Regions from separate parts of the Homo sapiens genome. Here region 1 is linked to region 2. The links come from fine-mapping of genetic effects on gene expression. A gene starts in region 2. The other region holds a variant in brackets. All regions are shown on one strand. Distances are from middle to middle.

Evidence for each region. PIP is the estimated chance that this variant, and not a neighbour inherited with it, causes the effect.
Region 1: its variant is fine-mapped to the expression of OTX1 in whole blood (TOPMed, PIP above 0.99).

What each region holds. Positions count from the first base shown.
Region 1 is chr2:63,345,359-63,348,266 of GRCh38, forward strand. The region is part of intron 12 of WDPCP (WD repeat containing planar cell polarity effector); the gene reads right to left. Among named protein-coding and RNA genes, the nearest start is that of WDPCP, 240 kb to the right of the region's middle. The variant G/C (reference allele first, on the strand shown) is at 1,282.
Region 2 is chr2:63,049,340-63,052,247 of GRCh38, forward strand. It overlaps OTX1 (orthodenticle homeobox 1), which reads left to right and starts at 1,491. Exons shown (of 5, transcript NM_014562.4): 1 at 1,491-1,558; 2 at 1,910-1,978. RefSeq lists enhancers at 1-629, 1-740 and a silencer at 857-1,516.

The sequences.
Region 1 (2,908 bases), 300 kb after region 2:
GGCTTGAAGACTCCCAGTGCCCTTTCTGTAGAACCGCTCTGCAGTACATGCAGTTGGCAGGACACAGATAGGCAAGTCTCACTAAGTCAGTGGAATTTGCTGATTGCTACTAAGCTGTATATGCTTTCAGGAAGGCTAGTGAAAGACTGAGTGCTATTTACAGGTAATGACTAAATGTGACAGAGAATCTCTCTGGTAGCTCACAGAGGTTCTTATCTTCTTAATTTGAAGGGCAGACATAGTAGACAAGTAGAAGATCTAATTGTTGATCAGAACTCTAGAGATGTTAAGATGCAACATCAAGGCAGGTCTGCTTTACTAAAGTCAGGGAACTGCTTAGTAACACTTGGAATCCTGAAATATGAAATGGGTACCTCTGAATAGATGCCCTTGAGTATTCTGATACTGCAGAACTCTTGAATCTGAGCCAGCACTCCACTGTACTAGAAGAAGCTCAGAGACCTTTCCCCACAATGTAGTACCTACTCCCCTCTCTCAGGAAATGCCTCTACCTTTATCCTGGCTGCCAGGCTGATAACTACAGTCAAATCTCAGCACAATCCAGCTGGGGACATGATGAACCTGATAAGGTAGGAGACTATACAACTAAAGAGTTGCAAGAATTCGACACTATGTGCCAGCAAAAATAGGGGAGCACCTCTCGGATTGGATTAAGAGGATGCTTGAACATGGGAGCTGGAATGGAAAACTGGGTAAGAGTCCATTTATGTGGAGGTACTTTTTCAGGACACAGGATTTAACACCTTACTGAGGAGCCCAAGAGATGGAGCTAATTGCTGCTGGAATGGCTCTTAGATGCCTGGAAAAAGTAATGTCCAATACTCAATGAAGTGAAATACCCCAATTGTTATGGCACAAGAAAAAATGGAAAGCATAGCAGGGAGAGTAAGAATCATCTGAAGCCGAGATGAGATGCAGTGACAGTGGGTTCAGTTTATATTATGAACCTCCCATTTCACCTCCCCTCAGTTACTATGGAATAGCTGAGCCTATGTGGAAAAGTAGACCTATTCAGCCAATAGGTGGATAGTGGAGATCTTGAGAATGCACCCCTCAGATTTCTGACTTCATTCAACAAAATAGACCAGCAGCCCTGGCTGCTATGGTCTGAAATCCATTAGTGCATCTGCACAGAACATATAATTCCCACAGGCTGCTCCCAGCCAATCCCCAGCAGGGATTCTAGGGCAGCTCCCTTTCTGGGAGACATGGAACTGCCTGTTATTGTTCTTTTCCTAGCCTCAAGTCATCTCACTCTAT[G/C]AATGCATAGCTCAGAGTTCAGCCAAAGACTCAAGGTGACTCTTATGTAGATTTATGGAGCTCTTTCTCCACAAAGCACCTGCCTCTCCAGTACACAAACCTGCAAATTCAAGCTGCCTCATCTTCCCTGAACTCCAACTAACTCAAAAAACTGCCATGTTCCACTTGCATTCCCTCTCTTTGCTCTCTGGTCTAGAAAGTGCCTCTCATCATAAAACCAGAGGATCATAAGGTTGACCTCATTTGTTTTTAATTCTCAGGGATCAGAGTCCTATACTGTCAATCTTTTAATATCTAAAGACAAATTTTCAGTGCATTTTGTCCAGTTTAATAATTGTCTATGGCAAGAGGGTCAGTCTGTTTCCAAATAATTATCATAGCTGAAAGCAGGAACTCTCAAATAATATTTTCATTAAATATTACAACCCTAACAACAATAGCCACAGTAACAACAACAGGTAATATTTATTAGGATCTTCTGTGTACTAGTTACTATTTTAAGTACCTTACATATATTAATTCATTTAATCTTGACAACAGCCCTGTTAAATTGGTAGTACTATTATCCCCATTCAACTGATGAGAAAACTCAAGTACAGAGATGTTAAATAAGAGTTGCCAGGTGAAACACAAGACACCTAGTTATATTTGAACTTCAGATGAATAATAATTTTTGATTATAAGTATATCTGATACAATATTTGGGACATACTTATATGAAACAATTATTTATTATCTGAAATTCAGACTTAACTGGGCATTCTGTATTTTTGCTAAATCTGGCAACCCTTAACTTGTCCAAGCTCCCATAGCTACTCAATTGCATAGTAGGACATGGAGCCTGGCAGTCTTGCTCCAAAACTCACACTCTTTACCATAGTGTTGCTCTACTGTCATTGGAAAAGAATTAAGTATTTGCCCCAGGCTTATAGATCCTTCTTTAGATCTGGTTCTTTGGTTTTCAGAATTCAAGATTAGAAATGCCATGTTGTAGTCATGGAAAAAGAATGATCAAGTAGCTCCCATGTTGGGCTGTTTTTGTGGGGGGGTCATTGGGTGTTGAAGAAATAACTTCTGAGAGGGGGAAATTGCCCCCCCCGCCCCCGACTGGATATTCATCTGAGCTTTATTGAGTCCCAGCTATGGCCCTGACTTTTGATTGTGGCCCTCCCTAATGCCAGCCCCCTCTTTGACTTATATGTTAGGGACCTAAACTTCTGTCATTTTGGACCTTGCAAGTTTTAAAATTAGTATCATTCAAAAGTTATCATCAGCTAGATGTCAGCTATAACTACATTTACTTTTATAGGGTATTTTCAAAATCCCCTAATGCTTGATGTCCTGTGGTAGGACTAAAAAGTTTAGAAAAACTAATGACATTAGTCTTTCTCACCTTAAGAAACTCAGTCTAGTAGGCGAGATAGCCACAAACACAATGATAATAGCTATCACTTACAAAGTACTTAATACATGCTAGTCACTTTATTATTTATTATTTATAATCTTGGCATTTAATTAAAGTTTGGTAAGTTCTTCATCTATAAAGATGGAAATAATAGTAATAGCTTAAGTAACTCACCCAAAGTTACCCATCCAATAAATTAGGAAGCTGGGATTCAAACTTAGT
Region 2 (2,908 bases):
TCCCGGGTCCTTTGAGAAGCAGTTAAGGAAACAGTGTGCCCTCCATCATATTCTGTTACCGTATTTTATTCGGACTCCAAAGGAAAGTGTCGCTTGGGGGAGGGGGAAGCACTTTGATGAGCGGCGGCCGCGGCCCCTTTTCACTCAGCGGGCTCCCCCTTCGTTCTCCTCCTCCTCACCCAGCGCCCGGTCCGCTCTCGGCGCCCGACCCCGCAGCCCGGGCAGCGCGAGTGCTCCCCACTGCGATGCGCCTGGAGGCTCCTTGACTTGCCCTCACACTTAATCCTGTGCAAACTTTTTACCCCGCCTGTCGGGGTGGGGGAGTGGGGGAGATTAGAAACAAGGGGTAGAAATTCCTCGAAAGGGAATAAAGTGCCTAATTTTCAGGAGGAGGTGCCATTTAAAAGATTCGCCTAGCTTAGAGTTGGAACGAAAACTCTTTTTTGCACTTTTAAAAGTCCACCCAGGTAGACGTGTTTGGGAAGTTTTTTCGGGTGGGAAATGGGCTTCGCCCGTACGAACAATCCGGGGAAATCGCCTCAAGGAGGATCCTTACGCAGCATGTGGAAAAAAGTTGAGGGCAGGGGTCTGTGGCCACATTTTCCATCAAAAAGTCCCTGTTAGAGGCAGTCTAAGAAAGAGAGAGAAAGAGCGAAAAAGAAACTTTCCTATCAAAATGTTTCAATTAAGAAGTAGGGTGTACGTGTGAGGGGAAGAGGACGCTGGGCTCCAACGTTTCAGTAGAAGCGCTTAAGACTTGCAAACACCCTTGGTGGGGACCTGGAACCCCGGGAGATGCCGACGAGCAAGCAGGTAAGTGGCGGCGCCCTCCCAGTGGGTGCTCTTCCCAGGCGCGAGAGTCCGGAGGGGCCGAGGAGAGATCTGCACGCCCGGAGCTGCTCCCGCGCTCTGCAAAGTAGCCTGCGCCGGCACGAGCAGCCCGCGGCGTCGGTCTCAGGTGGCGGCGCCGGGGAAGAAAACGCTGGGGCCCGCGGCGCCGGGAGAGGGGCCGAGGCCCGGGCTCCTCCAGCCCGCCGCCCCCGGGTCCTGGCGCCCACACCCGAGCGGCTGAGCCCTGTAGCGCGCGGGAGAGCGAAGGAACCGGTTCTCCAGCACCTCGCCTCCTCCCTGCCACTCCCTCCGGAGCGCCGAGAGCGCGAGAAGGGCGGGGGCGCCCAGGGCAGGCCTGGAGACCCACGGCCCCCTCCGCGGCCAGGACTCGGGCTCTCCGCTCGCCTTCCTCGCCTAGCTCTGCGCCGCTTTTGCCAGCCGAGTCCCGGAGTTAGCGCGCGACCGGGGCGGGGCGGGAGGGCGGGGAGGGCGGGGTGTGGGGGGCGGGGGAGGGCGGGGGCGCGCGGAGGTAACCCCCGGCTCGCGCAGCCATTGCCCGGCTCCCTGTCACTCAGCCCGCGCGGGGCCCCCGATTGGCGGCCTAGCCCCGTTACGCACTCGCCTCGCGTTCACATACCCGGGGAGGGCAGTAGAAAGGTGATCAATCTTCATCAGGCTACATTTCCAATCACCTAAACAACCGAGCAAGACAAGCCACTCCGACAAGGTAAATCGCTTGATTTATTTAGTTTGCAAAGTGACTCTGCAGGACTTCCCAGTCCCCACTGCCTCCACGTTGCACCGGGAGTGCCGCGGCAACGCCGAGCCACCTCCCAACTCTGCCCCTCGAATTCCCCCCCTTGCGGCCCCTCGGCGCGATCCCAGGCGAGGCAATGTCCTGAGAACGTGTGGGGCTTAGCAAACAAAGTGTCTGTGCAATAAAGTGAAACCCAGAAGGACACGCACAAAGCCATTGAAAAAAAAGATAGAGGTGGGAAGAAGGAAGTTGGGAAAAGAAAGAAACCTGGGGGTCCTAGACCAGCCGCCAGGGTAATTCCAGTGCTGCTCTGTTTTGCAGGTTGGCTGCCCGGCGGGTCTCTGTGAGAGATCCAGGTAGATGGTGAACGGCCCCGGCAGCTGAGGGCAGGTAAGGAGAAAGCCGCGGGGCCACCCCGGACTCCGGGAGCGCGTTGGTTACCCTTATCTCCCCCTCCTCAAATGGATCCCGGCTTCCCCGGTCCCCAGCAGGTGGTCGGGGCTGTGGGAGCGGCCTGGCTCCCCTCTTGGTGAGCCGAGGACCCCGGGGCGCTGTCGCGGCCCGCAGCCCCCTCCCCCGCCTCCTCCGAAGTAACCAAGCTGAAGTGCTAAGTTTGGAGAAAGTCTTTGAAAACTCACGCTGCAGCTTCGCAAAGCCGTCGCAGCTTTGAGTCCCATTTTCCTTCGGCCCTAGAGCCCTGGCTGCTTCCCTTCCGGTCCCCTTCCTACAAGCTGGACTCCCTCAGCCCAGGTCTTGGGTCCCAGAAGACGGGGGCGGGAACGGGGCTGGGGGGAGCTTCTTTAGCTCTAACTTCTCTCCTTGAACGTCCTAGCCCGAGTCCCTGGCTTGCTTCACAGCGATCCCGCTAAGCGGGGTGTAGCGATGGCCCCCCAGGGCCCCAGGCCCAGTTTCCAGCGCCCCTCCCTGACCCCTGAGAGTGGCACCCCGGGTTCCCGGCAGCGGCGGGGGCGAGGCTTCGACCTCCCAGCTCGGGTCTGCGTGGGCTACGCCGCTGAGGCCTAGTTCTCTGTTCTCGACCGTGTCCTGGGGCCGCGGGTTCAGCTACAAGGATGGCAGCACGCGACTTGCTGCCCTCCGGCTTCACAAATCCCCGAGACCCTTTGAGGTGCTAGGCCAGTCACCCTTCACCCCCTGCTGGGACCCTGCGGTCCGCAGCCCAGACTGGGCAGAGAGAAGGCCGGGTGCGCGCTGGCAACGAAGGACGCTGGCCGCAGCTGAGGCGCTCCCGACCTCAGGCCGCATCTTGGGGTCGCCCCCCTCTACAGTGGCCCCTTCGGCGTCCTCTGGCCCTCTGCGAAG